Homo sapiens: one gene and its partners. The protein of the gene in region 3 purifies or fractionates together with the protein of the main gene of each other region. This does not show direct contact. Each region holds a gene or a part of one and is shown on either strand. Other genes may lie near its edges.

Region 1 (7,746 bases), on a different chromosome or scaffold from region 3:
CCCCACTCTGGTTTCTGGCTTTAAAGGAAATGTTTATTTTAAATTTGACTGTTGCTATGATGTTAAGTAAAAGTTTTCTGTAGATACTCTATCAGGTTAAGGACACTTTTTCCTAACACTAGTTCCCTAAGTGCTTCTTATCATTATTAGAAGCTGAATTTAGTTGAATGCTTTTTCTGCATCATTGTTAGGAAAATACATCTTTTATAATCTGTGAATGCAAAAAAAACTATACACATTTTTCTAATATTGATAAAATCTTGCATTCTTAGAATAAGGCCAGTAACCCAGGACTTTTCACTTGGAGAGTCAGAAGAAGCTAGATGATACCAGAATAGAAACTGTCTACTTTAAACCGTATAGTGCCAGTCCTACTTGTTTACCTCAAAACCCTGCCTCCTCCATGACATCACTGCTGACTCATCCATGCCTTCTCTGAGCTTTTAGAGTATGTACCATTGATGATGTTCATTTGACACTTTGCATGTGCTGTTCTATACATGACCTATCTACCAACTAGAATATAAGCCCCTCAAAAAACAGCAACAAATAAGCACACAATAAATCCTTGCTTAAAATGCTTAAAATATCCTTGTGGATGAGATGGTGAAACATGAGTTGGGTAATAATACAGCATTCTCAGAAAATGAGACTTGTGGACATATGAGTTTTCTGGAGAACTGCTGTTTTAATCTCCTAACACTGAAACTTTAAAATCATTCTAAATTGTACTTCCCTGCTTTGTTAACCGAGTATTCTGGCCATGCTTAATACACTTCTTGATTTTAACTTTTTCTTGTTAAGGACAGTCAATTATGAGGAATATCAGTTATGGTGTTGTGGTAGAGATGTAGCTGTAGATACACAATGTGTGGGATGCAAAACCTCAGCTGTGACCCTGAACAAGGCTTTAACTGGAAAAAGAAAAAAAAAAAAAGGCAGGCATTCTTCCCCTTTGGCATTGACCTCTAACTCTCAGCAGTGATTTATACTTTTCTTCCTCTGCTCTCCTACCCTTCTCTGGCTTCTTTTACCCCAGAGTTACACAATGCAGAGCTGTAAGACTGATACATTTTTAGCAGTGGATACTGTGAAAAGTTGCCATTTCTCCAGATTATGACTTTCTAGCTTGTTTTTCCACTATGTACCATCTTTTTCTCTAGATCTCATTACTGCTTCTAATCTCTAGAGAGGACACAGCATAGTGTAGCAAAGAGAACCTTCTGGAGCCAGGGTACCTGGATTCAAATCCCAGTTTGGCACTTATTGAAAGCCCTAACAACAAATTATTTAACCTCAGTATTCCTCAGTTTCCTCTCCCATACCACGAGAATATATACCAACTTCACATGATTGTTATGAGAATTAATGAGTTAATATTTACAAAGTGCTTAGAACCTGGCCTACCACATAGTAAGCATTACATAGGTGTTATTTAAAAAATGGATAAAATACTATCAACTTGAACTCCATCACTCTCTTATCTCTCTGCCTCTTAAAACTGCTCCAGTGTTTCTCGTTTTGGTTGTGTTGTGCTAGTGGAGATAGGCGAGGAGCGGAGGGTCTGACATTACTGAGGGATCCCAGTGCCCCTTCCCACTGGTCAGAGCCTCAATGAGACACAGGAAAAGGGAAGGAGAGTGTCAGATATATTCATCACTGCTCCGTTAGCCATGCGAAGGTGAAGAAAATAGGGATGTTTATTTAACCAGCATAACAGGAATCCAGGGACATGTGTAACTGCTGTTTTCAAATATGCGCAGGGCTGGGCAGGAGAAGAGATAATAGCATTTAGAATTCTATGCAACAGCTACAGGCTCCCCTTCACTGAACATGTTTAAGCAGGGTACTGGTGGCCAGGTGTCAAGGATGCTAAAGAAAGAATTTTTAGTCAGATAATCTTTAAGATTTCTTCTACCTCTAAAATCTTGGTAATCCTAGTATGAGTCACGAAGTGGTTACAACCTAGATGTGAGTCACACATCGCCAACGCGCTCCCGAAGGCACAGAATTCACTCCCCACAGTGCTTGGCATCTTACCACAGACCTAAGTGAGGAATTCTAGCCCTGAAGCTGCATATAACCCAGCTCAGAGAAACAAAAACTTTCCTAAAACTCAGGGCGTCGGTTAGCTGATTGGCAAATACAGTAACGCACACATCCCAAACGGGACTTGGCAAAACGGTGTGCATCTGGATTAACTGTCATACAGTCTCCACGTCACTCTTCCACGAGGCCGGACAGAAGCGGGCAGAAGTGAGCAGCAGCAGGTTCAGGGGAAGGGGTAGGGTGGCCGGGATGAATGGGAGGCCAGCGAACTGACCTACGGCGGGGAGGGACAAAGGATCAGGGAGCGCACGCTGGGCGGGGAGGCCGGGAGGAATACCCCAGGCGGAGGAGCCGGGCTCGGGACCAGGCTGCGAACTGGTGACAAAGTCGGTTATCGTGGAGGGCCCTAAGTACCAGCGAGGGGCCCCGCGGGGGTCCTCTCTGCCTCGGGAGCTGGGCTCAACCACTCGCCCCGCGGAGGGGGCATCGCCCGGCCGGGGGCACCCGGGAGCCGCAGACCCGAGGCAGGTACTGGGGGCAAAGGCCCAGGCCGGCACCCCCGCCCCGCAGCCTCCCCTGCTGCCGAGTCCACTCAACCCTGCCGCCGGAGTTTGGATTATCCAGTCTCTCGCCGCCCGGGCCGAGGCCCGTCCCGGAGCCCCACACAGGCGGTCCGACAAGAACGCCGCAGTGCCGGCGCGGAAAGTGGGGCAGCGGCTGCCTCCCGTCCGGTCGTGCGAGCGGCGGCCGCCATCGCGGGCCGCGGCGGGAAGGAGAAGAGGGGCCGCGCCAGGCGCCACTTTACCTGAGAAACCAGCGGGAGTAGCGTCTGCTCCACCGAGCGAGTTTTGATCTCCAGTCCCGAGTCGAGGGCGAAGCCCGAAGAGCCGGAGCCGTAGACTGCTCCGGCGCCGCCAACGCCGGCGGGTCCGGGAGAGGCGGCCATGGCCCTCGGTCTATCCCGCAGCCGGGACTCCGCGCCGCGGCGAGCCTGCCGCCAGTCAGCCCACCCGCCCGAGGCGGCGGCGACAGGACACTCGCGCCAACCGAGACCCCGCCCCCAGGGGCCCGCCCCCCCAGGGCTCCGCCGCCAACCCTGCGTCCCCGACGCCCGTCACCGTATGTCCCCGCCCACCCCCGGCCTCTGCCCCGCCCGCGCAGTCCAGCCTGGTGTGGGCTCCCTGCAACCCCACCCCCTAAGCCGGGTCCCGCCCCCACATGGCCCCGCCCTTATCTCTTCTCAGACCCCTTCCATGGGTTCCAGGCACCTTCTCGCCAGGGTGGCGAGGAGAAACAAAACACATCTGTCACACAGCCACATGGCCTCCTCTTACTTGGACAGACAAGCGTCCCCAGCAAAGCTTCCCGTCCTCTCGATAGGTGACTCGTCCTAAATCAGCTCTGAATTCCCGCAAAGACTTCTGGAAGCTGTGCTGGGGTTGAAACTGGTAGACCAAAACCAGAATCAAGTCTGTTGGGAGGGGCCTTTCCCCTGGGACGGGAATTCCAGTGGTAATGTCTTCCTGGGGCTTCTCCGGAAGGTCCAATTTCCACTCCACCCTGCTCATTCTTTCACCATGTATTTCTCACAAACACTTTGAGCTGGATTGAAGGGGAAACATTTGATAATGCAATCATTAATGGAGTATCTGGGTATTCGGCAGGAAGTCAGTATATCTTTCACACTACTGTTTAGACTTATTCAAAAGAAATTTAAAAGAAACATGAAAAAGCCTCATCTACTGTTCAACACTACTTCTTAAAACTATTTTTCGAAGTTTTTTCCTAGTGCCAGGCACAGAGCAGTTTCTTCATAACTGTTCATTGCATGAAAACACCAAGTGTGTATTTCTGACAACTCACTTGAGGGGAAGGGTAAGAATCAGTTCTGTAAGCACAACTCTGAGCTCGCACAGAGCCCCACGATGGGGGCGGGGAGCTGAAGACTCCTATTCTAAGGTCTCCAGGAGCAAGGCCAAAAGGAGGTTGTCAGCAGTATGCACGCCGTGAAGGAATTCCAGACTTAAGCAACAGACTGAGAAGCATGAAAAAATGTTTTGTCAACTACCATATCTGCCAGTGAGAACCTGTCAGAGTAAAAAAGAATCTGAGGCTGGCCAGTCCACCCGGACACCTTGGCCTGGATCATTTCTTCTTCCATAACACCAGATTGATGAGCTGGGTACATCAACCTGAGGCATAAGAAAGCTCTTTCCCAAGCACCGTTGAAAGGCGCTTCACAGTGCTTCAACCTGTAGCTTCAGCTTCATCAATCTACCAGTGCTGCACAGCTGTCTTTGGTATTGAAGATAGCCAAGCTTCAGCTTCTTTTTCTTCATTCAAAAAGGACAGGTCCTCAATCCAACTTTTTCTTCCAATTCTTCTCAGCCAACCATCTCACCACTTCCTTACCTATCACAAGGCCACCTTCCCCTGTGCACTGAGGGCCCTTGACCTCTTTAAGGCGCCCAGTGTCCACTTCCTGGACACACCTTCCCTTACGAAGTTGACAGTATCTCCTAAGAATTCAGTGTACACAATGGTGCCGGAGGAAATGGCATAACAGAAGGCCTAAGAGACGGATGGATTCATGAAACTTTGGCTTCACAAAAGATCAAGTTTTTCAACACACAGGAGATTAAGTTTACCACATGATTCATTCAACACTAGTAATTTTATTTCAAAATATAAATATTTCACATTAATAAAGAAGTTACATCAGTAGGTTGTCAAAGCAAGTTAGCTAAGAAACAGCATTTGTGTGAGAACAGAGGGTATTTATTGTATTCGAATATTCTTTTTTACTTTTGAATTGCCTCCTTCACCTGAGAACCCAGGGATGATACATTTTCAAAGAGTTATGTAAGCAATTACAACTCTATATCAAATCTTAGTTCAAAATCAAATTGTACTGGAAATACACTTCAGTTACCTAAATAAGTGGCACTGCAAAGGGCAAAGAAGGGTTTTCTTTGGGATGGCTACAATGAGAGTTACATCTGCTGGGTCTCTGCAATAAAAAATAAATGATATTTGATAATAAGCCAAAATTATCAGGATTTGCTTCCATACTTTTCACTGTAAAATAAAAAGCTAGCAAAAAGCTAGTAAGAAACCAGATGTCTAGTAAAGAACTCTGGACTTGGAGTCAGAAGTTCTGCAACTAAATTCTGGCTCCATCATTTTGTGGTATAAACTTAGGGGAATATCACCAAAAACTTTTCAGAGCCTCCAGAGCCCCCCCATCTGTACAATAAGGATAATATTGTCTGTCTCACAGGGCTGTTACAAAAGGTGTCTGAAAACTATAAAGTGCCATACAAAAGCATTATTAAAATGTAATATCAATATATCACCACTGTATTTGCACATTAGTTGATCCTTGAAAAACCTGCAAAATTAAACACAATACTGATTTTACACACCACAGGTGGAAAAGAATCTCTATACCTTAAGTATAGCTCTAAACAGCAAATATACTTGCTTTCTGGACTTCAAGATTTATTACACACTACATGGTACCACAGTAATAGATCTGCCATTCAGTATTTCCATTAGGGATGTCTTCTCAAAGAGTTGTAAACTTGATCAAGGGCCATGTTTCTCAAAGGACCCTGTAGTCCTTTGAGATGCTCTGAGGAATAAAGAAGGGGAGTGCAGTCTAAGGTCAAACAGTGTTTGTCCCCTTTTATAAATTCACAATGTGTAATAGCATGTTCAAAACTCTTAGAAGTCCTACAGTAAGGAAACAAACTCAGCATTCCTTCATTTTAATTGACCATGCAATCCCCCACCCCCAACACACACACACTTTTTTTCTTACATCTATTAACATCTCTTGGAACTACTGCTATATGGAACACATTTTGCCAAAAGCTGCTCAACCATGAAGAAAAGGAAAGAGAAGTAGAACAACGGACTGACAGAAAAAAAAGAACTCTATTCTATTCTGAATTCTGTTACTAACTGGCTGTATGTGTATGTCAGACAAGCCACTTAAACCTATGAATTTGGGTCTTTCTCTAGAAAGTGACAGGACCACCTAATTTTAGAAGTCCCATTCTAGCACAGAATTTCTGACTCTAGTAGACAGAACAACTTGATTTATAATTCTCTTAAACTATCAAAAATAACCAAACAGTGGCTGCAGACAGCATGTGTGTTTTTTTTTTTTTTTTTTTTTGCAGGTTCCCAATAATCGGTAAGTTAATAAAATGAATATATTTTGATGGCAGAATGTTGAAAGACAAGAAACTAATAAAAAGTACTTGTTTTTAGCTGGAACTAGCATTTGGAAGTAATGCTAGCCAGAGGCTATTTCCACTGTGAAATGCACACTCAAAGTCCTATTGTAATATTATTTTAAGGGTCTTAGGAGGCCCCTCAGAGGAGACTGCAAGGTCAGGGCTAGAGTATGAGAAGTCCTAAGGGTTTTTGTATTTTGTTTTTTTTTCCTATAAACCCTGAGGTTGAAAGCTCTGGATAGCTCACCTAAATTACTTTCCTCTAATCTAACCCCTCACAGCCTGAATTTCTGAGTATTGCTTGACCAGTAGTGACACATTCCTGAGGCACTAATATAACCCAAATGGAAACTACAGGTCCTAGGAAATCCAGATAGGTCACAATGGGTTCATGTGAAGATCAAGGTGAGCCAGAAGATCTCATCTGCAAGCCATTTAGCAGCCCTTTAACTGTAAAAAGCAGTTCCACTTTCAAAGGCTACAGAGTTTGTTTACATACAAGGTCTCCATGTAACATGTTGGATTTCTTCCCACTGTCATGGGCCAACCCACACTAGACTCAGAAGTCAAGGGAAAGCTCTGCCAGCTAAACACTTCTTATCAAAGAGGGTGTGAAGAAACCTTGCAATTTTAACAATAACTAAGACCAGCATGTAAGGTGGTCTTACAGAGATCACTTGCAGGAACAGATATTGATAGGAACTTCAGAACTCAAACAGCACTCACATAACATGGAATTTATGCTGAAAATCCCATGCCTTCTCTCTCAGAAAAGAGAGGAGCATACCTGTGTGGAGAGCTTGTATTTTCTCCCCTCCCATCCATTCGGTTTACAACTGAATAGCGAATGTGAACTTGAAACTAATCTTTAATAAATCTATAAAATGCAAGATATTATGACCAAGTTCTGTACTCCGTTTTTACTGAAATGACTTCTACTTCATCAACGTACGGTCTGTTCCTGAAGAAACTTCCTCTTTCTGGGTCAAATTCTGACTGAGAATGTAAAGGTAGGTTATCTTTGAGACTTGAGCTTAAAACTCCTACCTTTTCATACCACTTGATCTCTGTTGCCCTGTGAAAATTCTGTAAACCTTCCTCATTGCATCTGAGGAATCATGCTGGAATGCTTCTTTCTGGCTCGGAGGGTTCCAAGACCTCCCCAGCTAGTGGACCTTCCTAGTCCTTATGCCGTTGCTGTAGCAATGGGGCAGGTCAAGTTTCCTGATCATAGCTGTGAAGCACTCTGGGGCACCTCTGCTCCTGGTATTTCAGGGTGATATTACATCACTGCTGCTAATTTTGGTAGCTCTAAAGTATTCTCTTAAAGACCTCTAAGAACCTGATATTTATGCTAATAATTACCCAGCAAGAAACATTAGCTGTAGTTTTTTGCAATATCACTTTATACAGCTAAAATCACTTTGTATATGTATAGTAACTCATTGTATAT
Region 2 (7,109 bases), on a different chromosome or scaffold from region 3:
CACAGCAAACAGACTGGGATGGAATTGATGTGAACACCTAATCTGTTGTGTATGCACTCAAGGGTCTCCTTGCATTTTCTTACGCATGTGGCTGACTTCTTTTGTCAACTAATTATTAAAACAGGGAGAATATTTCCAAGGCACCTCATTTAGAGACAAATCCTTAAGATTCAAAGTGTGACAGTCTCAGAATAGTTTCATGCCAAAAACTGTAGTGCAAAGATAAGTTCCTTCAGTTGTTTTCTACTTTTTTCTTTACTTGTCTTTAAATCCTACTATTCTTATTGTCCTGCTAGAATACTGCTTTTTCATAGGAGAAGAGAAGGACATTTCCTGCAGGAAATAATACCAAAAAATTAGAAAACAAGGTTTCTTCTTCTTCTTCTTCCCCATTGGAATCCCTGAGTTACTAATTTGACAAAATCAGCTTTTACTATAAAATAGGGATAAAACAATTTACACTTCATTTGATTCTTAATTTGAGACTTAATATGCACAATATTGTATGACATGATTTAAACTCTTATCCTCTAAAGATAATGCTAGTACAGTCAGGTTGAAAATTCAGAAAGCATCCATTGCAAATAGTCTTCTAGTTTGTATTTTAAACTTTCTCCTTAATGTCTTCTTAGTCCTCGGAGACCTTCCTTCAAGGAGAAAGTATCCACACCTTGTAATTATCTGCATTTAACAGTACCTTCATTTTATGGGCACATGTCCCATATACTGTAGAGCAATGCTGTACTAATAGTTTTAGCTTTCAATATTTAACCCAAACTTCAGATTACATACAATAAGGTCCTAAATTATCTGCACCTGCAAATTAGCTTTAGGATTACCAACACAATTACCTAGGATTTCCTCCTGCTTTGAAATTTCATTGTCACTGTTTTCAACAATCAACTGAGGCATTGGGGATGACATATGACATTTTCTTGGGAAAGCAAATTAATGACCTGCATTGTCTCTCCAGACTCAGGGGGCAGGCTCTCCCCGCTCCTCCCCCAGCCACACCATCAGCAGGCCAATTCCCATGCCCATCCGGTCAGCGTCAGCCTGCTCCACCCCGACGCACACGCCGCAGGACTCCCTCACAGGAGTAGGGGGAGATGTACAAGAGGCATTTGCACAAAGTAAGTGGCTTTATTTTTTGTTGTGGTCTGCTTTTATGTGGCAAATAGGTCACCAAGGTCTATTGAGTGGTCAAGAGTTGTCAGAACCACATGTGACTATTGTAGGGTCTTTCATGGCTGGTGTCAGAGCCTGGCCTGCCAGCCATTTTGGGAACTCCCTACACCAATTTGTTCTCACTTCACGATTTTACCTTCCTTTGGCTTTTGTTGCCCTGCCTTATTTTTTAGTAAGTCTTTGTTCATCAAAAGACAGGAAATCTTTTCACCAATACCCCCAGAAAACTTCATAAATGTAATCTATTTTTTTTAATTCTTAGAGATTTTCTTATCTCATATTGTCTTTTCTTTATATTAAAGTCAAGACTGAGATAAGTAATCACAGCTCTTTAGCAATGAGGTAACCAAGAAGGACATTTAGTCATTTGACAGATTCCCTGTTCTGATGCCCCGAAGAGTTGAATCATTGCCTCTGTAAGGCAGGGCTACAGGGTTAAGCCTCTGCAGTTAGAGGAGTACAAAGAGGGATGGGGATGCCAGCCAGCACTTTCCCATGACAGGGAGAGTAACTTTATTAATTTAGAAATATTTTTAACACTTTTTAAAACCTCTTCTTACTATCACTTTTTAAATTTATAGAGAATAATAATAAAAAAATCATTCTGTAGACCTTCACCGGCAGCTTTCATTCCCAGAAGTAACCACTATTAACAGTTTGATCCTTCCCAAAGTTTTGCTTTTGTGTAAATAGATATGTTTAAGGATGTGATTATAGACACATACTCTTTTTTTCACACAAATAGGATCATGCATTGCATTTTGGGGTCTGCAATTTGCATTTTCTTTAAATTAGCAATATATCATTAACATTCTTCGAAGTCTTCACATAGAGATCTAAGGAAAAGAGAGACATGTTTGAATATGGGTTTTAAGGCAAAAGAGATCATAAACAAAGTTAAAAGACAGAAAACAGTCTTGAGGAAACCATTTCCAGTATATGTGTCAATCAAGTTTCATAATTTCAGTTATACAAAAATCATGTAGAGATCAGAAAGAATAGACACCACCAAAACAAAAACAGGTGAAATATACGAATAGACAGAAGAACAAAGAGAAATTGCCAATAAATATATGAAAAGATGTTCAACCTCTAATTACAGAAATATAAATTTTAATAAGTATCACTTTTTGCCTAGAAGATTAAAAAAATGTTTTGAAACATCATAATATCCAGGGATAGCAAAAGTGCGAGGAAAAAGGTACTCTCGTCCATGTAGAGGGGTGATAAAATCTTAACACACTTCAATGAGAGAGAATGATGAACTCTCTACTCTGAGGGAAAAGGAAGGATCTATATTAGAACTTTTTCTTCTAGGCACTGAATATAACTCAAGAGTTTTTAAAAATGTAATTCACAAAATAACTTTTAATTTTTAGAAAGAAAATATCCCTTCTCTTAATCATATTTTAAAGAAATGTACTATATTTTAAATCAATTTGTGATTTCCATTATAATTAATGTTTTTACTTAACTACTCTGATTTTTTTAATTTAAACATTTATTATTTTATTTAGTTAGTATTACTTTCTGAAAAATGACGGAATGAAATTCCATTAACCCTTAGTGTGCCTGAAACAAAATAATAATCTTTCTCTGCCATAAAGAAACATAGTCTAAGTTCCAATTTATAGTACCAGACATGCATCTGCCCATGTCTTGGCAGAAGAAACAAGAATCCTCACCCCTTTCTCACGCTCTGGGGGCATTCAGTGCATGTGGGTTTCCCATTCCCAAGTGGTACTTACACTGGCAGGAAGAGCTCCAAGAGCCCTGATAGGAGACAGCGCATGTCCTAGTAGAGACCAGAATCTAAAGGGCTCAGCCACCAGGTAAGGGCAAGAAAAATAATAGCAGCTAGGAAGGCGCAGCTCTCCTGGAAAACCTGATTTTTCATCTGTGTGGATTATTCTTAAGAAGGGTGACCACACGCACTGGTTTACCTGGAACCATCCCAGTTTTGCCAGGTCAGCCAGCCTTATTCATACTGCTCTCTTTCACCTTCAAAATTGTCCCCATATGGACAAATAATATATGAAACTCCATCATTAGCCATGTCTTCTTACTGCAGGACCCACTGCCCTAAGCAGTGTTTTGTTGTTGTTGTTGTTCTTGTTTCAGGAAATGAACTAAAGCACTTCTGAAAAGGAGAAGTCTTAGAAGTTTTCTTGCTTTAGGTTATTAATGGGAAGGATAAATAAACAACATAAAAATTTAGGATAGAAGGAAGCTTTGGTTTTTTAAATTATTTCTTCTTCCCTGAAGGTTCAAGAAGAAACTTAAGGAATGACTTGCTAGTGGCTGCAGATTCCATCACTAACACTATGTCCTCTCTTGTGAAAGAGCTGAATTCTGGTGAGTTCCTGATTCCCTCTCATTTGTCTGCTCATCATGGAGGGATCCATAAGTGCTAGGGGTCTCTCTTAGAGATCTGCTTATTGTCTAATATCAAAAGATTCTTTAAAGCTCTATGTGATATTTTGTTGGTCTATTCAGATTTGAGGGGTTTTTTTTTTGTTTGTTTGTTTTTGGTTTTTTGAGACAGGGTGTCTCTGTGTTGCCCGGCTGAAGTACAGTGGCACCATCATAGCTCACTGGTATGTCAAACACTTGGGCTCAAGTGATCCCCCTACCTCAGCCTCCCTAGTAGCTGAGACTACAGGCACATGCCAGCACGCCTGGCTAATTTTTTGTTGTTGTTTTCATAGAGACAGAGTCTTTGCTATGTTGCCTAGGCTGGTCTCAAACTCCTGGCCTCAAGTGATCCTCCTGCCTCGGCCTCCCAAAGTGTGTGAGCCACTATGCCTGGCCTATTCAGATTTTTTAAGTAATGTTTATATTTTGCTTATTAAAAGACTATTAACACATACTCAATGTAGAAAGTTTGAAAAAGGCAGAGAAGAACAACGAAAAATATTCAAACTGACCTATAATTCTGGAATCCAAAGACAGCCACTGTTAACATCTATGGTGACCTAAAACAACATGATGCTAAGGTTATTTTATAGGGTCAAGTGTATTATTTATCTTTTTTTGAGATGGGGTCTTGCCTTTTTTCCCCAGGCTGGTCTTGAACTCCTGGGCTCAAACAGTCCTCCTGCTTCAGCCTCCCGAAGTGCTGGGATTCCCAGCCCTTATCTATTTAGGTTTCATTAATTTGGAATGCCTGATCATTTAAATTTGAATTTCAAACTGAAATTTACCTTTGCAATGTCTCTGAAGATAGATCTGCCCAGAAATAAATAGCATAAAATTTAAGGAGACTTTTTATCCTTTTAATACTACAAAGAGTGTTCAAAACTTTAGCAGTATGAATATGCAAATAAATATCTTACCAGTCACTAATACATCTCCATCTATTCCTTAAGGCCGACCTACCAAGAGATTTGTCTGGCAAGACTATGGTCTTACAGCTGAGATTGCAACTATAAGAAATAAAACTTCAGTTTTAAAAAAATCCTGGACTTCGCTTTCTTAAAGCCTCTCAATTGAAAATTGTTGCTGCTAATTTAGATTAAGATTACCAAACGGAATAAAAAGATAGTAGTTAATACATCATGATTAATGGCAGGTAACCACTGCCCTAGCAAATGATGAGTACAAAGTTATTCTTGGTGTAGAAGTCTTAAGTACTGTTAGTTTATACTCATAATTCTTTAAAGTATTAAGTGATAGGGTTCACTTAATATTTTAAGTTCATATTTTAAGCATTTTAGGTGAATATTTTATGGTTAGGATTAGGTTTTAACTCATAGTTCTTAAATTAGTGTAATATTAAGCAAAAGTAACAATTTTAGTTAAGTCTCTTACAGAAAGGAAAAAGTAGAAGTCTTAAAGAGTTAAGTCAGTTACTAAGATGGCAAAAATTCCTCATAACATTTCTGAGATTTTAAAAATGCTGTATACCAAATGATTTTATAGTAATTCATGTCAATATCAATTCTTATTTTGAAACAATAAAAATGTATTTGATTAAAATATGATAACTGGTTAACATTTTACACAGCACAGGTTGATTTGTGAAGCCTACTCCTTTATTTGCAGGTCATAAAAAAATCTAACGAGTCATTCTTTATTTCTTCAATTGTATCTGCTAGAGGTTGGGAGTGAAACAGAGAGTAATGTGGATTCTGAATTTGCACGGACTCAGTTTGAGGATCTTGTTCCCTCACCAACCTCTGAAAAGGCTTTTCTAGCGCAAATCCATGCCCGAAAACCTGGGTACATTCACAGTGGAGCTACCACAAGTACCATGCGTGGCGACATGTGAGTATCTTCCGCTTGGAAGCATTTTCTCAGTAACAAAACAATCTGTAGGAGACAATAAGAAAGTAAAAGCATAATTGTTTAGGGTTTTTTTAACCTTCAGAAGGGGTGACATAGTTTTCTGTTCTGCCAGAGATATAGAAGGGTGCTACATTTAAATTCGGCATTGTAATATTTCCCCTCTTACAATTTCCAGAGAGTTATCAATAACCTAAACCAACCAGTGCCTATCAAGAGCCTGCCTTGCCCAAGGCACATTGCTAGTGCTATACAAAATAGTATTAAAAAACTGCTGCCACCCTTTTAGGACTCACAGACTAGTTCAGGAGATAAATCATCCTATCTTCTGAACTTATTGTATTTGCACTTAGAGGATACCATGACATTGGAGAGGTCTCTGTCCAGAATTGGTGTAAACAACATCACATAAGTATTTGGAATTGAAATAAGTACATGTATAAAATCTCATTATAAAGAAATCCAGTTTGGTTGACTTGTTGAATTTGTATGAATCTGACCCTCCAAAGACTTATTTGCAAAAGTTTTCACCCAGTTCTGGAGCTTGTCAGAAACCAGCAGCATCAGTAACGTCCCCACTAGACTTTCTGTGACCCTGGATCAGCTCAAATTAGTCAACAGAGAAAACCAAAGCTGAGAAACAAAGGCAAAGCTGGGACAGAGCTGCAGAGCCCAACTTGGGAGAAAAAGGAGAAAAACAAAAGAAATGAAGAAAGTGGCCCATTAAATGACCATGGTTCATGGAGTTATGGGAAATGTGGGCAAAGGCTGACCCAAAAGCTGGGGGAGGGAGTTTCTGAATGCTAAAAATACTTCAGAAGGGTGATGTTGCTTAATATGAAAAGTACTTCAGACTAGTCTATAAAAATAAACTGGCCATTTTAAAGACTCAGAGAAGAAACTAAACAGAGGCCTTTCTGGTGTTTGGCTCTCCATCCAAGCAGTGAATAAACAATCAGTAATCATGGAGAATTATCAAGAGGTGTGGTCTGAGAGTCAGCTATGAAGCAGCAGAGAGTAGGATCAAAACAAAACCATTATCATGGGACTTAACATGGCAGTACGCTGCTGCTTAATATAGTTTGCTTTCTTGTCCTTTCTTCTGTATTCTAGAATTGTTGGATTTGTTATTCAAAATGGTGAATTAGTTGTCATCTGTTTTGTCTGGTAAATTCATATCTATTTGACTTTTTATTATTAAGCATTTATATGGCAGTTAGCTAGAATTTCCTTGTCCTAATTCTAAAATCCAAGACTATTGAGGCCACCCTAATCTGCTAGCCCTGGTATGCTGAGTAGCAGTACCAGCTACCAACATGTGACTCAGGAGTTAGGGAAGGAAAGTTAACAGAGTCCTGGGCAGACCCATTTAGCCTGGCCCCAAACCTCCAAAAATAACCAGAACATGTTGTACAGCTATAAATAAACGCAAACAACGACATTTAAGTTCCAACCTAGAAACTTCTTCTTGACCACTTATTTCATTTTAGGGAATAATTTAATATTTCTATTGTCTAAACATGTACTTGTGTTTTACCCTGAGACTCTTTTAGTCCTATGATTTAGGTAGTGAGTTTATGTCCAGCCCCATGAAAAGCTTTGCATAGTCTAGGATGAATAGATGGAGACAGAGTCCC
Region 3 (7,109 bases):
CTTCTTTCAATTATAAAGTAATACATATTCATAGTGAAAAAAGTAATAACAACATTACAGAAAGACATAAAAGGAAGAAAAGATGCCCCCTCTTTCTTTCACCCCTTTAGTCTTATTTGACACCCTAGAGGTAAAGCCATTAACAGTTTCTTGTGTGTCTGTTCAAAATTTTTTCTACACATATACATGTATATATGTAGAATAACTTAAAATGTGGAACCCCAAAAATGCATCTCTCACCTCAGACAGATGTTTTCCTCTGTATAACTGAGTTAACAGAGTCATATAATACTGCAACATGTCCTTAAGTTTGTAAAGCTGTAGGTATGATGTTCTTGTTAGGTACACCTCACCTGTTTTCCAGATCCGGCATGCTTAGGTTTCTAGCAGCAAAGCACATTTTGAGAGGGATGATCTTCCTGTCCTTGGTGCTGTTCTGGTGTTTTGGCGAACCAGAGTCCTCACTGCCACTAAAGCTTGGTGACTGGGGGGCTGCACCTTCCCACGGCAGATCTGATACTAATGATGGCTTCTTGATATATGGTGTTACTTCTCGGATGAACTTGACTATGAACAAAAAAATCAAAGAAGAAGGTTAGTAATTTTGCTTCCTATAATAAATGATAACTAAAGTATTCACATACATGCTATATCTATAACAAAGTGGAGGAAAGAGCTGGGCGCGGTGGCTCACTCCTGTAATCCCAGCACTTTGGGAGGCCGAGGCGGGTGGATCACTTGAGGTCAGGAGTTCAAGGCCAGCCTGGTCAACGTAGTGAAACCCCATCTCTACCAAAAATACAAAAAATTAGGTGAGCGTGGTGGCATGCGCCTGTAGTCCCAACTACTCAGGAAGCTGAGGCAGGAGAATTGCTTGAACCCGGGAGGCGGTGGCTGCAGTGAGATTGTGCCACTGCACTCCAGCCTGGGCGACAGAGCAAGACTCTGCCTCAAAAACAAACAAACAAACAAACAAACAAAAAATGGGGGAAAAAAGTAAGTTAAAGAGCCATGAATCCCCTGGAGATAGATTCTAAGACAGACCCATCTAGGCTTTAGATGATTCAACCTTTAGAAACTTCTCCATACTTCTACCCACTGGTTCCCTGTCTTCTCAAGCCATATAGAACAAACTTAATCTCTCTTCTACATGAGAACTCTGTAATTATCTGAAGACAGATTTTTCTCTTCTCTCTCCTCCCCATACTAAGCTAAGTATTTCTATTTCCATTCAACTCAATCAACTTTTATTAGCTACCTACCAAGTGTTGGGAATTAGGCTAGCCAGTAAAGACACAAGGGCAAATGAGCCATGGATTCTATCCCTCAAGGAATGCCCAGCCTTGCAGGGGAGACAGCTATGTAAACAGGCCATTACAGTTCTTAAAATCAAGTGCAAAAATAAAGTATATTCAAGATAAGGTATGATCTAATAAGCACAAAGCCAACTCAACTGATCCCCCTTGCTTGTTCAAAATACTCTATTTCCATTAATGTGGCCCCAAATGAAAATCAAGCTTTTAGTAGATAGGAAGCTTTTTTAAGTTCAAATTTAAAACTCATAAAATACTTGTTTTACTTCAGTCATGACTACAATTACTGTCACTCGAGGCATGGTGTTCTTGTTTCAAAAACTAGACAAACTGGCTGGGCACAGTGGTACACACAGTTTCTCCTGTGAATAGGTAATACATGCACATAAAACAAAACTCAAGAGGTATAAAAGGTTTTATAATAAAAGTCCAGATTTCTAGCTACCCTGTCTCCATTCCTAGAGGCAACCATTCAAAGAGATGCCTGGTATGCTAAGCATGTATGAAAATAAACACATACACATGCGTGTATATCTGATCATACATATGGTGGTACATTATGCTTACCGTGCTGCACCTTAGTTTTTTTATTTAATAAGGTTGATAGTCTTTTATAGGCCTAATAGTTGATAGCTCATTCTACAGCATGATGTGGTCATAGAGATGCCTTTGGAATCAAGAAGACCTTGTTCAAATCCTAACTGTGCTTGCTATTCAAAGCTATGTGACCGCACTTAACTGTTCTGAGGTCCTCATCTACAAAATGGGAGTAACACTAAGCAAATAAAAATTTCAGGCACATACTAAACATTCAATAAATACAGTAGGTACCTTTCTTTTTCCTTCCCTAAATTAGAAAGTTAGAGAAGAGTTAAAAAATTTTAATGGTAATCAGTAGAAGAGTTAAAGTTATTTTCTTATACGTTATTAAAAAAGATTTACTGAAATTAAGTATAATAATAAAAAATATAACAATTCCAATGCTAGAATTTAGATGTAGTATATCTCTGTGCTTTTTGTGCATAGTTATAATACACGTGCTTCTGGGTAGCTGCCTCAGGTCACCAAGGAGATTTTTTTACCCTAGAAAAATCAGCAGGAGTGCAGTCAGTATAACCCTTGAGCAGCTGACTCAAGCATTTCAATACATACTTCAGCTTTATGCTTTGAAGGACTTTGGCAGAAATTCCTAAGGTTTCCAGTTACTGCAAATGGCAGAGGCATGCTTTTTGAACATTTAAGGCAGTACACTATTGGGCTACCAACTGGAGGAAATTAAAGACATTCTAAATGAATTCTTGAATAATATAGTGGTTAGAAAAGAACCCTTAACGATCTACTCAGTTCATTCAATCACACAGTAGCATCACTGAACTGATTACTACACACATCCTAAAACAAAAACAGACATACACATACAATTTATGTATTGCCTTATTAAAAGAGCAATGAATTTTATCTGAGTTGATGGCAATGCAGTCCATACCCCCATCTAATTAGCCATCCAGAATGGCTGAAGAGCTGTGGATGGACATCTGTTTCTATGTTTGGGAATGGCAAAAAGTTAACAGTCTTCTGTTTCAGTCCTATGTTAAGGCCTTAACCTGGACACGTGGCTGGATAAGCAGAGCCTTTACACCCCCACATGGAGCTTTCAGTTCAACTCAGAATCCACAACATATTTCAGAATCATTTCATTTTTCCTGATAGTTGAAGATAATCCTCAAAATAATTTAATTAAACACTGATGTTTACAAACTGTTTTGAGTGTTCAGATGCTGAAGCTAATTTTCTTTCTTCCATTCATGTATCCCTTTTTTTTTTTTTTTTTTTTTAAGATGCAGTCTCACTCTGTCGCCCAGGCTGGAGTGCAGTGGCACAATCTCAGCTCACTGCAAACTCTGCCTCCTGGGTTCACGCCATTCTCCTGCCTTAGCCTCCCCAGTAACTGGGACTACAGGCGCCCGCCACCACGCCCGGCTAATTTTTTGTATTTTTAGTAGAGACGGGGTTTCACCGTGCTAGCCAGGATGGTCTCGATCTCCAGACCTCGTGATCCACCCGCCTTGGCCTCCCAAAGTGCTGGGATAACAGGCTTGAGCCACTATGCCCGGCCTCACGTATCCCTTTTACTGAACGTGAAGGTGGGCTTCCTCCCACCCCAAAAGCATTACTGTGATCCCTTCTCTTCTTTAGAGTGACAAAAACACATACATGTACTGCACACATGTACCTGTAAAGATGTCTGGAAGGAACTTAATCAAAATATCAATAGTGCTTATATACAGGTGTAGGATTGCATTTTTTTCTTTATGTTGTTCTGTATATTTAAAATTTTTGTTAAGTCCATAGTATTTATTTTAAAAACGTATTTAAGAAATGAAGAAAACTTATTCTGAGACCTTGTTCAAACTCTATCTTAATTTTATTTTTGAGACAGGGTCTCACTCTGTCCCTCAGGTTGCAGGGCAGTGGCACAATCATAGCTCACTGTAACCTCAAATTCTTGGGTTCAAGTGATCCTGCCTCAGCCTCCTGAGTAGCTGCAACTATAGGCACACACCGACACATCTGGCTAACTTTTTAATTTTTTGTAGAGACAAGGTCTTGCTATTTTGCCCAGGCTGATCTCAAACTCCTGGCTTCAAGCAACCCTCCCGCCTTAGCCTCTCAAAGCGTTGGGATTACAAGCATGAGCCACCACCCAGCCTGTTGCTCAAACTTTAAACATGAAAGACATGTAAACGGAAATCTTGAGGCTTCAAAAACTATAATGCACTGGATAGGATCCAAAATCCAACTGATTCTTACTGAATTCTAAGCTCTAATGAATAAGGTTATGAAGAGTTCCATGTTTGGGGCATGAGGCAGCATCTGATTTTAAACTGAATGCAAGTGGCTTCTTTTTTTTTTTTTTTTTTTTTTTTGAGACAAGGTCTGGCTCTATCACCCAGGTTGAAGTGCAGTGGCATGATCTCAGCTCACTGCAACCTCCGCCTCCTGGGCTCAAACCATCCTCCCATCTTAGCCTCCTGAGTGGCTGAGACTACAGGTGCACACCACCATACCCACCTAATTTTTGTACTTTTAGTAGAGACAGGGTTTTGCCATTTGCCCAGGCTGGTCTCTAATTGGTGAGCTCAAACAATCCACCCGCCTTGGCCTCCCAAAGGGCTGGGATTATAGGTATGAGCCACTGCACCCCACCTGTTAAGTGGCTTTTTTTTTTTTAGTAGAGACGGGGTTTCACCATGTTGGCCAGACTGCTTGCCAACTCCTGACCTCAAGTGATCTGCCCACCTCGGAGTCTCCCAAAGTGCTGGGATTACAGGCTTGAGCCACCACGCCCACCCTGGCTTTTTAAAGCTTATCTAGGCTGGTGCTGAGCATGGTGGCTCACACCTGTAATCCCAGCACTTTGGGAGGCCGAGGTGGGTGGATCACGAGGTCAGGAGTTCAAGACCAGTCTGGCCAAGATGGTGAAACCCCATCTCTACTAAAAAATATAAAAATTTGCCGGGTGCGGTGGCAGGCACCTGTAATCCCAGCTACTGGGGAGGCTGAGGCAGGAGAATTGCTTGAACCCAGGTGGCAGAGGTTGCAGTGAGCTGAGATTGTGCCACTGCACTCCAGCCTGGGCTAGAAAGTGAGGCTCCATCACAAAAAAAAAAAAAAAAAAAAAAAAAAGCTTATCCAGGCCGGGCACGGTGGCTCATACCTGTAATCCCAGCACTTTGGGAGGCCAAGGCGAGTGGATCACTTGAGGTCAGGAGTTCAAGACCAGCCTGGCCAACATGGCGAAAGTCCATCTCTACTAAAAATACAAAATTAGCCAGGTGTGGTGGCGGGCACCTGTAATCCCAGCTACTTAGGAGGCTGAGGCAGGAGAACTGCTTGAACCCGGGAGGCAGAGGTTACAGTGAGCCAAGGTCATGCTATTGCACTCCAGCCTGGACAACAAGAGCAAAACTCCATCTCAAACAAACAAACAAATAAACAAAACGAAACGAAACAAAAACCTTATCCAAAAAGGATACATAATAGGGCAGACACAGCCTACGGCTGCAAACACACATATTTGGATAAATGGATCAACCTCTTTTATAAACATCAACTTCTCATATAATCGTTATGTTCCTTTTTATCTCTAACTCTTACCTTTTCCATGCCCCAACTGGTGATCTTTACTATGAGTTTAAGTGAAACTAAGTTAGTCACACAACATTATTTCCCCTGCTTTTGCAAGCAAGTTTGTTCCTGGATTATTCTCAGAGTGGAATATCTGGCTGTGCATTTTGCACAGGAATGAGTTATGTTGACAGTCACTGTTAAAGTATTCTCTCAGGAGGATTCTCTCCAACCTCATCCCAAGCTCTTCTCTCAAGTCAGGAGGCTGATAAATGACCACCAAAAACACGAGGAAGGAATTGCTTTGCTTTGAGTAAAAAGCCTTTTACATTCTCAACTTGCAGGTGTCTTTCAGCTCAAGTCTCCTGGCCATTTGGGGTTTGAGTAGACTGCAGTCTAGAGTCTGGTGACATGAACCTTGAATGAGTTCAGAGTGACTCTTTCACTCTTCCTCTTCATTCTAAAATAACATAGCAAATTCACTAATTTATTGAGCTCCTACTATATACCAGGAACTGTTTTAGGCATGTAGAATTATTAGCCAGTGAATAAAATATGCAAAAAATAATAATGTAATTAATAATTTAATGAAATTCTAGAGAAATGAAAACTTACATTCACACAAAAGCCTGTACACTAATGTTCTTAGCAGCTCTATTCGTAAGTACCACAGCTGGAAACAACCCAAATTTCCTTCAATGGAAGTGAATGGATAAACTGTGATACAGCTATAGAATAGAACACTATTCAGAAATAAAAAGGAACAAACTATTTATAACTCAGTAACTTGGATGAATCTGAAAGGCATTATACCAGTCTCAAAAGTTGTATGACCCCATTATTGAAAAGAAAAAAATATATGATGAAAAATTCAGTGGTTTCTAGCCAGGCGTCGTGGCTCATGCCTGTAATCCCAGCACTTTGAGAGGCTAAAGTGAGCAGATCACTTGAGGTTAGGAGTTCAAGACCAGCCTGGCCAACATGGTGAAACCCCACCTCTGCTAAAAAAACAAAAATTAGCCAGGCATAGTGGTGCACGCCTGTAAGCCCAGCTACTCAGGAGGCTGAGGCAGGAGGCTTGAACCCAGGAGGCAGAGGTTGCAGTGAGCTGAGATTGCGCCACTGCACTCCAGCCTGGGCAACAGAGCGAGACCCTGCCTTGACTAAATAAATAAATAAATAAATAAATAAAAATAAATTCAGTGGTTTCTAAGGGTTAGGGGTGAGAAGGGATATGATTATAAAGGGATAGCACAACAGAGTTTTCTGAAACCATGGAATGGTCCTGTATCCTGATTGTGGTGACAGTTACAAGAATTTATGTATGTGTCCAGATTCATAGAACTGTATACCTTAAGGGGAAAAAATTCAATTGTACAGTATGATAATTACAAAATAAAATAAGTAAATTATACAGTATATTGGAAGATGTTAAGTGTAATGGGAAAATGAAACACAGCAAGGGAAGGGGTCAGAAATGCTGCCCAGGGTGTCAGTTTGTAAATTTTAAATATGGTAGTTAGGGTAAGCCATTAATAAGATGTTTGAACAAAGACTTTAGGAGATGGGGGAGTTGGCCATGCAAATATCTGGGAGAAACATTCCAGCCAGGGAGACAGTGTTAGGACAGTAACAGGAGTTACTAACAGGAGTGTTAGACAGTAAGGA

Evidence for each region.
Region 1: the proteins of SNTB2 (region 3) and CTNNAL1 purify together in Homo sapiens (affinity purification with mass spectrometry; 2 studies listed by BioGRID and IntAct, with this or other methods). This does not show direct contact.
Region 2: the proteins of SNTB2 (region 3) and DTNA purify together in Homo sapiens (affinity purification with mass spectrometry; 2 studies listed by BioGRID and IntAct, with this or other methods). This does not show direct contact.

What each region holds. Positions count from the first base shown.
Region 1 is NC_000009.12:109,010,448-109,018,193, forward strand, and holds the start of CTNNAL1 (alpha-catulin), read right to left. Parts: upstream 3,053-7,746; 5' UTR 2,996-3,052; coding exon 2,855-2,995; intron 1-2,854. UniProt on the Homo sapiens protein: May modulate the Rho pathway signaling by providing a scaffold for the Lbc Rho guanine nucleotide exchange factor (ARHGEF1).
Region 2 is NC_000018.10:34,874,266-34,881,374, forward strand, and holds part of DTNA (dystrobrevin alpha), read left to right. Parts: intron 1-973; coding exon 974-1,133; intron 1,134-3,453; coding exon 3,454-3,543; intron 3,544-5,285; coding exon 5,286-5,454; intron 5,455-7,109. UniProt on the Homo sapiens protein: May be involved in the formation and stability of synapses as well as being involved in the clustering of nicotinic acetylcholine receptors.
Region 3 is NC_000016.10:69,239,060-69,246,168, reverse strand, and holds part of SNTB2 (beta-2-syntrophin), read right to left. Parts: intron 568-7,109; coding exon 354-567; intron 1-353. UniProt on the Homo sapiens protein: Adapter protein that binds to and probably organizes the subcellular localization of a variety of membrane proteins. May link various receptors to the actin cytoskeleton and the dystrophin glycoprotein complex.